Homo sapiens: one gene and its partners. The protein of the gene in region 1 interacts with the protein of each later gene in a pairwise test. Each region holds a gene or a part of one and is shown on either strand. Other genes may lie near its edges.

What was found.
Region 2: the proteins of PRDM14 (region 1) and GPATCH2L interact in binary tests that used the Homo sapiens proteins (3 or more experiments, as listed by UniProt).
Region 3: the proteins of PRDM14 (region 1) and SAXO4 interact in binary tests that used the Homo sapiens proteins (3 or more experiments, as listed by UniProt).

Annotation. Positions count from the first base shown.
Region 1 is NC_000008.11:70,051,120-70,054,371, reverse strand, and holds the end of PRDM14 (PR domain zinc finger protein 14), read left to right. Parts: intron 1-2,067; coding exon 2,068-2,295; 3' UTR 2,296-2,721; downstream 2,722-3,252. UniProt on the Homo sapiens protein: Transcription factor that has both positive and negative roles on transcription. Required for the maintenance of embryonic stem cell identity and the reacquisition of pluripotency in somatic cells.
Region 2 is NC_000014.9:76,149,810-76,153,559, forward strand, and holds the start of GPATCH2L (G patch domain-containing protein 2-like), read left to right. Parts: upstream 1-2,112; 5' UTR 2,113-2,182; intron 2,183-2,726; exon of another isoform or gene 2,727-2,931; coding exon of another isoform or gene 2,932-2,960; intron 2,961-3,750.
Region 3 is NC_000011.10:61,484,017-61,487,766, forward strand, and holds part of SAXO4 (stabilizer of axonemal microtubules 4), read left to right. Parts: intron 1-671; coding exon 672-800; intron 801-1,321; coding exon 1,322-1,385; intron 1,386-1,782; coding exon 1,783-1,895; intron 1,896-2,327; coding exon 2,328-2,387; intron 2,388-2,507; coding exon 2,508-2,594; intron 2,595-2,931; coding exon 2,932-3,045; intron 3,046-3,129; coding exon 3,130-3,224; intron 3,225-3,750.

The DNA of each region.
Region 1 (3,252 bases):
AAGTTGTTGGATAACATCAGTAAAGTATATAAAACTCTTGTAACAGTGCCTGGCATAACATAAAAGTACTACTGGAATGTTAACTGCTATTATTACTACTTTAATCTGTGAAGGATGCTACTGATGTAATTTTCTATAGGAGCATTGCAGAAGCGGCATCTAGTCTATGTTACACAGAATACAGAGTTGTAAAAACAGAGATGAATCATGTGGTTAGAGGTTGCTATAATAGAAACAATAGGTTGACCACGCTTTAGACATATTACACCAAAATAGCTCTATGCTACCCAATGTGCAGTTCGCGGTTAATCATATGTGGCTATTTCAATTAGTAAAGACGAAGTAAAGTTGAAAAATTCCGTTCCCTAGGTTGCATTAGCCACATTTTAAGTGCTCAATGGCTCCATGTGGCCATTGATTTCCAAGATGGACAGCGTGGGTAATGAATATTCCCATTATTGCAGCAAGTCCTGTTGGAAAGCACTGGTATAGATTATGTTTTCAGTCACTGAGTCATTTACGCTTTTTACAGTAAAGCCGTAAAAGGAGTAGAGGCTGTCCTACAGCTACTTCTAAGCCTCTCAAAAGGAATAAAACATTGAGTCTACCAGATTAGAGCAACTAATACCTCCAAAGTGTGTGTCAATAGAATGAAAATAATGGGCATAGAAAAACACCACTGAGCTGGGCGTGGTGGCTCACACCTGTAATCCCAGCACTTTGAGAGGCCAAGGTGGGTGGATCAACCTGAGGTCAGGAGTTTGAAACCAGCCTGGCCGACATGGAGAAACACCATCTCTACTAAAAATAGAAAAATTAGCTGGGCATCATAGTGCACCTGTAATTCCAGCTACTTGGGAGGCTGAGGCACTAGAATCGCTTGAACCTGGGAGGTGGAGGTTGCAGTGAGCCAAGATTGTGCCACTGCACTCCAACCTGGGTGATGGAGTGAGATTCTGTCTCAAAACAAACAAACAAACAAACAAATAAAACAAACCTACAAACCATCTCAAAAAGTTTAAATTAAAAAGAAGAAGAAGAAGAAGAAAACCAGTAAGGCACTGACTTATGCAAAGACACTGGCCGATATTAGCTTCTGGTCGATATTAGCTTCTCTTTCTGTAATGAGGTTTGTCTTGAAGTATGATCCTAGGACCCACATGCATCAGAATTGCTTGTTTAAATGCAGGCTCCTGGGTCTCATGTCAGATTTATTGGGTCACACTCTCTTGGGTGGGGTTGGTAATCTGCTTTTTTTTTTTTTTTTTTTTTTAAAGAGAGGGTCTTGCTCTGTTACCCAGGCTGGAGTGCAGTGGTGCCATCATAACTCACTGCAGCCTTGACCTTCTGGCTCAAGTTATCCTCCCACCTCAGCTTTCCAAATAGCTGGGACCACAGGTACATGCTACCATGCCTAGGTAATTTTTTTACTTTTTGTAGAGGTGAGGTATTGCTATGTTGCCCAGGCTGGCAGTCTGCTTTTTTTTTTTTTTTTTTTTTTTTTTTGGAGACAGAGTCTCACTCTGTCACCCAGGCTGGAGTACAGTGGTGCAATAACGGCTTACTGCAACCTCCGCCTCCTGGGTTCAAGAAATTCTCCCATCTCAGCCTCCTGAGAAGCTGGGATTAAAGGTGCACGATAGCATGCCTGACTAATTTTTGTATTTTTAGTAGAGATGGGGTTTCACCATGTTGGCCAGGCTGGTCTCGAACTCCTGACCTCAGGTGATCCACCTGCCTTGGCCTCCCAAAGTGCTGGGATTACAGGTGTGAACCACTGCGCCCAGCCTGCAATCTGCTTTTTTACAAACTGGACCTCCAGATAATCTAGCCATTGAAGAACCACTGTTCTAACATCCAGTGCTTCTCAAAACTAGCCAGAAGGACACATCAGTGGAGTCCTTTCGGATTAAGGCTACTGATGATGACCAGGAGTGCTCTATGGCCTTAAAACCCAAGGTTCGTCCATAAGGATGAGCAACAGTGAAATTTACCCCTTAGTTTAATTGGTTGTCCAGCTCGTGGAAGTTGACTTTTTCTTGTGTTCTGTATTTCTGTTCTCTGCAGAGGTTCACAGCCTCCAGCATACTCCGCACACACATCAGGCAGCACTCCGGGGAGAAGCCCTTCAAATGCAAGTACTGTGGTAAATCTTTTGCATCCCATGCTGCCCATGACAGCCATGTCCGGCGTTCACACAAGGAGGATGATGGCTGCTCATGCAGCATCTGTGGGAAAATCTTCTCAGATCAAGAAACATTCTACTCCCACATGAAGTTTCATGAAGACTACTAGCCCTGCCAGGCACAATGACTCACGCCTGTAATCCCAGCACTTTGGGAGGCAGAGGTGGGTGGATCACTCAAGTCCAGGAGTTCGAGACCAGCCTGGGCAACATGGTGAAATCCTGTCTCTACCAAAAAAATACAAAAATCAGCTGGGGGTGGTGGCACATGCCTGTGGTTCCAGCCACTCAGGAGGTCGAGGTGGCAGGATGGTTTGAGCACAGGAGACGGAGGTTGCTGTGAGCTGAGATCGCCCCACTGCTTTTCAACCTGGGTGACAGAACCAGACCCTGTCTCAAAACAAAACAAAACAAAAAAAATGAGTAGCCCTCAAGAGTGTGGAGACAATGTAAAAACAAGAGATTCGGATTCTCTCTATTTCCTTTTATGGGTTATAGAAGTCCCTGCAGTTGGCTGTGTGTGGTGGCTCACGCCTGTTATTCCAACACTTTGGGAGGCCCAGATGGGCGGATCAGCTGAGGTCAGGAGTTCAAGACCATGCTGGCCAACATGGTGAAACCCCGTCTCTACTAAAAATGCAAAAATTAGCCTGGTGTGGTGGCACATGCCTGTAATACCAGCTACTTGGGAGGGGAATTGCTTGAACCCAGAGGCGGAGGTTGCAATGATCTGAGAAAAAGGTAGCTTTTTCTCTACTATTTGCCTTGGGCCCCCAATTATACAATGCGGTCATCACGTGTTACATTTCTTTATAGAAAAGATTCTTATACAGAGAGGCAGATCCCAACATGTTACCCAGGCTGGTCTCAAACTCCTGGGCTCAACTGATCCTCTGGCCTCAGCCTCCCAAAGTGCTGGGATTATAGGTGTGAGCCACTGCATCAGGCCTAGAACAAATCCTCTAAAAATTCGCTTATCATACTGTGCACTTGGCAGAAACAAAAACAAACAAAAACCCCACTAAATAAATAAATATTAATTTAAAGCCAAGCGTGGTGGCACAAAC
Region 2 (3,750 bases), on another chromosome or scaffold:
ATGGCTTTTCATGTCATTAAATATTCTTTTGCAACATTAATTTTTAAAAGTTGCAAGATATTCCACCCATAGATGTACCATAATTTAGTTAACTAACCCCTGTTGTAGAACTTCTGGCTTTTTCTAGTTTCCTCATCTCTCCCTCAGAAATGCTGCAGAGATGATTTACCTATATTTAACATTTTTGCGCCCATTTCCAATTTTTCCTTAGAATACAATTCTTTGGGGCAAAATTTCAGGGTCCAAGGTATGTGCATATTTTTAAATAAACTTTTTTATTTTAGGATAATTTTGGGTTTAGATAAAAATTATGAAGATTGTTACAGTTTCTGTGTAATTCACACTTTCTCCTATTATTCACTTTTTTTTTTTTTTTTTGTGACGGCTGAGTCTCACTCTGTCGCCCAGGCTGGAGTGCAGTGGCTCGATCTCTGCTCACTGCAACCTCCGCCTCCTGGGCTCAGGCGATGCTCTTGCCTTAGCCTCCTGAGTAGGGACTGGGACTACAGGCATGTGCCACCACACCTGGCTAATTTTTTGTATTTTTAGTAGAGACGGGGTTTCACCATGTTGGCCAGGCTGATCTCGAAATCCTGACCTCAGGTGATCCGCCCACCTCAACCTCCCAAAGTGCTGGAATTACAGGTGTGAGCCACCACACCAGGCTATTCACTCTTACAGAAGTATAACACATCTCACAATTGCAACCAATATTGATACGTTATTATTATTATTATTATTTTGAGACGGAGTTTCACTCTTGTAGACCAGGCTGGAGTGCAATGGTGCGATCTTGGCTCACTGCAACCTCCGCCTCCCAGGTGCAAGTGATTCTCCTGCCTCAGCCTCCCGAGTAGCTGGGATTACAGGCACGTGCCACCATGCCCATGTAATTTTTGTATTTTTAGCAGAGACAGGTTTTCACCCTGTTAGCCAGGATGGTCTCAATCCCCCAACCTCAGGTGATCCGCCTGCCTCGGCCTCCCAAAGTGCTGGGATTACAGGCGTGAGCCACCTCACCCGGCCCGATACATTATGATTAACTAAAGTTGATACTTTATCCAGATTTCCTTAGTTTTTACCTAATGTTCTTTTTTCAATTGCAGCGTCACACCCAGGACACCATATTACATTGTCATGCCTCCTTAGGCTCCTCTTGGCTCTGAGTTTCTTAGACTTCCCTTGCCTTTGCTGATCTTAACAATTTTGAAGAATACTGGTCATGCACTCTGCAGAATGTCCCTCAATTCGGGTTTGTCTGATTTTTTTTTCTTATAATTAGACTGGGTTATGAGATTTGGAAGGAAAGTACCATAAAGTGCCATTCTCATCATATATCATTCCACATACTATCAACATGATTTAGCACATAGTCTTGATCACCTGGCTGAATTACTGTTTGCCAGGTTTCTCCCCTGTAAAATCACTCATTTTCCCCTTTACAGATGTTGTACTTTTGGGAAGGAAGTCACTATGCACAGCCCACATTTAAGGAGGCAGAAGTTATGCTGCAGGATGGCTGTCTACATAAGTTATTTGAGATTCTTCTGTGGGGGATTTATCTCTTCTTCCTCATTCGTTAATTTATTCAATCACTTATATCGGCATGGGCTCATGAATATTTCTTTTGTACTTTGAGTTATAATCCAATATCACTTGTTTTATTGCTCAAGGCAATTTGAAATGTTCTGAGTAACTCAGTGCAAAACAACCTCTTCCAAAGGTTGTACCAGCTCACAGGGTAGACGTCATTAAGATCCATTTCCCCTCAACTTCACAGACCCATTAAAAAGGTCAGAAAGCAAGAGATAAGCTGACATCCCTGCCTAGCGCCCAATTTCTGGAAGCCCCTAAGGAAGATGAGGCCAGCATGCAGGGGTCTTTCCCCACGTGGGGCACCTCAACCCCTGAGACGCCCTTTCCCGGCCAGACCCTATTCAACACCCCTCCTTGTCCCCTGCCCCATCTCCTGGCTTCCTGTGGCTCCGCCCACCGCGGGGCGGAAGTGGGTGTGGCCACGGGCGGAAGCACTGGGTCAGGGGCCCAATCGTGCAGCCAGCCCCTCCCACTCGCCACCGCCCCACCCCTCCGGCCCAGACCGGAAATGAGGTCAGAGAGGGAAGCCCCGGCGGTGAGAGTCGGCCCAAAAAGCGGCGGCCGTTGGAGGTGGCTGCGGCAGCTGGTGAGGGGGAGGAATGGGTTGAGAGTGTTGGGGTCCTGGGGGCTAGTACCAGAGGGGATCGGAGCGCCAAGCCGCGGCTGAGCGGCTAAGGGCGTCTTGGGGCTGCGGCAGACGGCCGGAGGGTGAGGGTGGTGGGGCCTTGCTTTTCAGGGCCCTTGTCCCCATCCCTGGGGATGTGGGTCGGGCCGTCTCCGGGGCCACAGCCCCCTCTTCCCCTTTCTTCTTTCTGCCTCTCTGGGGCGGGCTGCAGCCTGAGGGCTTGGTGTCCCGAGCCATGGTCGCCCCAGCCCTCAGGGACGGGCCGGGGCGTGGTGGAGAGTCCTTCGAAACACAGTTTTTGTCATATATGTGGCCATGTTGCGACCCCCGATCCCGGAGGGAGCTCAGTCGCCAAGACTTGCATTTTGGCAGTTTCTGCCCTAGAAGAGCCGATCCCCGCCCCTCGTGAGCCCAAATGAGCAGTTGCCTCCTGCCTCTCCCACCTCCTACTCCGCCCCTCACTTCCACCCTGCTCCTGTCTCTCTTCTTACTTGCTGTCCACCAGCTACCCGTTCCTTCCTGTGCGTGACTCAGCCTCATCTCTGCCCGGGTGCGTGCCTGGCCGCCGGGTCCTCTCGAGAGTGTGCATCCGCGACTGGAGATGGGGAGTTCTAGGGTTCTTTTGTCACTACTGTTGGAATTACAGGCTTTGAGGCAGGAAAGGATTCTGCACAGGCATTCGACTGCAAGTTGTTTGATGACTTCGTTCCATGTTCAAGTTTGTGCTGTTCTGCCTGAGGTTTTTATTTGTTCTTTTGTTTTTGTTTTTTGTATTTTTGTTGCCTGAGTTTTTAAAGCAGTAATTCTTTATTAGGGAAGTAGATTTTGACATGCTGTTCCCACTTGTTTCTTTATTTTGGTCTTAGGGACAGTTGTCTCCCAAACCTCAATCATGGCATTTTAATCCACTTTTTTTTTTCCCATTTTTTCCCCTTCTTTTCACAGGTGTTGATAAACCACTTCTTAATGCTTAAAAGAACTTGGTCTTGTTTAAATGTATGTGCTTTTGGACACTTTGAGAAGCTTCGTTTGTATGGTAGTTTTGGAAGTAGGTGTCACTATTGCTCCTACAGGTGTGGCAGATAAGCCAGAGGACTGTTTTCCTGTCTTTAAGTTCATTGGCATAGGCACAGCATGAAAATAGGTTTTAGAAAGCCCTTTGCAAAGTGAAAACTGAATGAATGGGAATATGGTCAGAGAGTGGCACCACTTAGAATTTTAAGCTGATCTTGAAATACTTTGGGCATAGAGGCAAGAGAAAAGTGCTAAAAATTTAATATGTATTTAATTAGATGCTGTACAAATTAAATATTTCCCCTTAAGGGGGAATTTTGAAGATTGCTCCTACTACTGTCATTTCTTGAAATGTTTGTCTCTGAAGTGACCCCTGAAGTGTGATGTTTGGTTTGAGGATGAACAGAAAAATAAGAAATTTTGGAAAGCAGTTTGGCCAGAAATCTTAGAAACTTCACCCTATCCCTGTCATTTCAGCTGCTATTGTATCCTAGTTTTCTGTGATTGTGTGGCAC
Region 3 (3,750 bases), on another chromosome or scaffold:
CTTGAGGCCAACTGCTGTTGGGTCAGCCTGGCCATCATGGTGAAACCCCATCTCTACCAAAAAAATACAAAAAAAAAATAGCCAGGTGTGGTGGCTTGCATCTGTAGTCCCAGCTACTTGGGAGGCTGAGGCACAAGAATTGATTGAACTCAGGAGGTGGAGTTTGCAGGAAGCTGAGATCATGCCACTGCACTCCAGCCTGGGCAACAGAGCGAGACTCTGTCTCAAAAAATGTAAGTAATAAATAAATTAGAAGCGAAGGAGTTGCAACTGCAAATCGGGAGGGTCGGGAAAGAGCTTGCTATGGAGACACTGGACAAAAACTTGAGGGAGGCCAGCTCCTCCAGTTGCAGCTGTCTGAGGGAGGAGTGGTCCAGGCAGTGCCAACAGCAAGTGCAAAGGCCTCAAGGTGGGAACAGAAAGGAGACAAGCAGCTAGAGCAGGGTGAGGCACTCAGGTCCTTGCAGGCCACCAGGAGGACGTGGAATTCCCTGCGAGTGTGATGGGAAGGCTGCAGGGCTCTAAGCAGAGAGGGGACATGCAGGTTTCATTGTAAAAGGACCCCCTCTGGCTGCTCTGCAGATACTGCGCTCTGTAAAGGTCAAGGGCAGAAGCAGAGTCAGGGAGTGACTGCCGCCCCCTCACTTGTAATTGGCCCTTCTTCCTCCCAGGTCCGGAAGGTCCATTTCGACACCCAGGAGCACGGGCCTCAGGCCATCACGGGGCTGGAGCCCAGGGAAGTGCCTCTGCTCCACCAGCAGCAGGGCCAGGACCCGCTGGAGCGGGAGAACTTCCGACATGTGAGTGGCAGCCCAGCTAAGGGCTTCGGGGTGGGGCAGAGGGGCCACACCCGCCTCTTCCTCCCACCTCAAGACAAGTATTGCACTGACTCACCCAAGAAGCCAGCTCAGGGTGGGCTCAGGGCGCCAAGAAAGATGGGAGAGCAAAGGATTTGATATTGGCTATTTCCAAAATAGCCTCAATGTGGCTTCTCGCGATTTAACGCTACTCCTCTTCCCCCAGCCTTCCTCCTCCTGCTCACGGCCCCTCCTGGTCTCGGTCCCTCTGGGCCCCCCACTCATTACCAGGAGTCTGGTGTGGGGTGTGACGTGGTATTCATAGTCACAGGGGAACTGTGCTTTGTGCTGAAATTCCTGGCCCTGCGATGTCCCACCCCACAGAGACTTGTGTCCAGGGTGCTGTACTGGCCCACACAGGCTTCCTCAGAGCACAGAGAACCGAGGCGCCACTCCACCGCCGCCACACGCCTTCGGGGCCCTGGTGGGTCAGTGCCCCCACTCCTCCAACCTCTCTGTTCCAGGGCCCACGCTTCATGACGTCGGAGTACAATTCCAAGTATCTCAGGGACCCTCTAGACCAGCCAGGTAGGCCCTGTCTGAACTCACAGCTCCCTTCCCATCTTCCAATCCACCTCCCTACTTGCTACCCCAGGGGCCCTGGAGCTGGCCTAGGACTGAGAAGGCACCAGTGGAAGAAAGAAGGATGCACAGGTGGCTGGAGGGAAGCGCCTCTCCCGGGCTGACCTCAGTACCTTGGGCCTCTCAGGAGGGTGGCTTGGCCGGTGCATGCCCTTCCTGCTGCTCCCTCTCCTGTCCTCCGGCCTGGACTCTGGAATCCTCACCCTGCCACCCACGATCCTCATGGCGCAGGTCTCCAGGATCTTGGGATCCACTCCCTCTGCACCTGCTGGGACACTGAGCCTCTGGAGGACACATGGGTGGGCCAGGTGGCCTGGCAGCACACAGGGCATTTCTTTTGCAGATTTCTTGCAGAAGAAATCGATCGGCGCAAAGGAGGGGAGTGGCTTCACCAAACAGTCCCACCAGAGCCCCATTGTCTTCCAACCGCCCTCACAGGCCCTCCCTGGGGACCCTGTAAGTCGGCTGGGCTCCTGCTAGAACTTTAGGGGGCTTGAAGCCCTCCAGTCTCAGGGTTTCTAGCTTTCCTAAAGAATGTGAGCTGCAGAGCCCTTTGTTCAAACACAAGACGAAAGAGCTTAGGTGAAAACCACTGCTTTGGTCCAAGTCCCCCATTTATAGATGAGAAGACTGAGGTCCAAAGAGATGAAGGAGGTGTAGCCAATGTCATTCAGAGTTCAGACAAGAGCCCTGGCCTGCTGGTCCCATTCAGAGTCATGCCTTCCCCTGTCTTCTCCCCAAACACTTCCCTTTTCTCAGTGATGCCCATTTGAGCTGAGTCCTCCTCTGTGCTCAGCACAGCAGTGGCCTGGAGGCAGAGTGGGTGGGAGCCACCAGGGGCCCAGGCTGCCTCTGCGGGGCTGACATCCTCTGTGGGCCTATTTCCAGGCCCTCCTCCCAGGCCAGAGTGTCACCAAGTCAGACTTCCTCCCCAAGACTCACCTACATGTAAGCTGAGCTAGGGGGAGGCTGGGGACCGCCTGGCGGGGAGCAGTTAGAACATGGCTCTGGAAGGTGGTGGGGGAGGCAGCCACATCCTGGTGCCAGTGGCTGCTTTGCTCCCTCCAGGGAGATGAGTTCCTACCTGTGTTGGCCAGAGGCTCCAAGCGGGAAACAGCCTTCAGCCGAGGGAATGAAAGGATTCTGAACCCCAGAGTGAGTGGCCTTGGCGTCTTGCTCAGAGAAGGGAGAAGACAGGGAGGTTTCTGGGAAGAGGTGGCATTTGGGTCAGGCATTGAAGAATGAGAAGAATTAGGATATTTAGGGATGTGGAGGTAGGCCCTCAGGTGGAGGGTGAAGAGAGCCTGGGCCTTCCTGGGGGCTGGAAGATGAGGGGTGTGGTCTGAAATAGAATTGGCTGGAAGGGGAAGGGAGGGTCGCTGGGGCTGTGGACAGGTCACAGCTGTGTGTGCCTCTGCCTGCTCCCCTCTCCATCCCTGCTGCCTCAGGCTGGCCACCTCAGCCTCCCTTCTGGTGGTTCTGTGCCCTGCAGGTGCCCCCTCCCTGCCCAGAACCCAGCAGCGTGAGTCACCAGCAGTTTCAGCCACTTCATCGGATGCAACAGACAAACGTTGCCCTGCTTGGCCGGGAGACTGTGGGGAAAAAGGTGAGACTTGCTACACCTAGCCTCCACCCCCAAATCCCCACCCCTTCTGACTTGACAATTCCCCTGTCTACCCCTCTTGTGCAGGAGCCCACAGGGTTCAGCCTTAACAACCCCATGTATGTCCGGAGCCCCTGTGATCCTGACAGGGATCAGCGATACCTGACCACCTACAACCAAGGGTGAGGTCCGCTTCCTGGTCCAAAGCTGAAACCCATTTGAGAAACAGACTGAGACTGGGATAAGTAATGAGCTCACAGCCTCGTGGAGAAGATCAATGCTGAGTGAATATGGGTTCCCCAGAAGCATACCCTAAGCCAAGGATTGGAGTGCAAGCATGTTATCAGGCAGTTATTAGGCGTGTGGGAGTGGAGAAGAGGGATGAGGGAGGGAAGGCAGCAATAATGAGCATGTTACTAGGCCAGCTATCCCACTGGGAAAACTCTAGAAAACAGTGTAAAGCACACAACTCAGAACTACCCCAGTCAAAGGTGAGAGAGCTGGGGTATTTATACCCCCACATCCATCGGTCATTGGTTAAAGGCTATCCCCAGGGCAACATTAAAGCCCAGGTGCCTCCTTGCTCAGGCAAAGCAGCTTCTAGCATCCCAAGGGTAGCTTTCCCACAGAGATGCAGGGCATTGGTGGCCAGGCTGGTGGGCATGGAAAGAACAGGGCAGTGCGAGGGAGTCTGGAGCAGCAGCATCT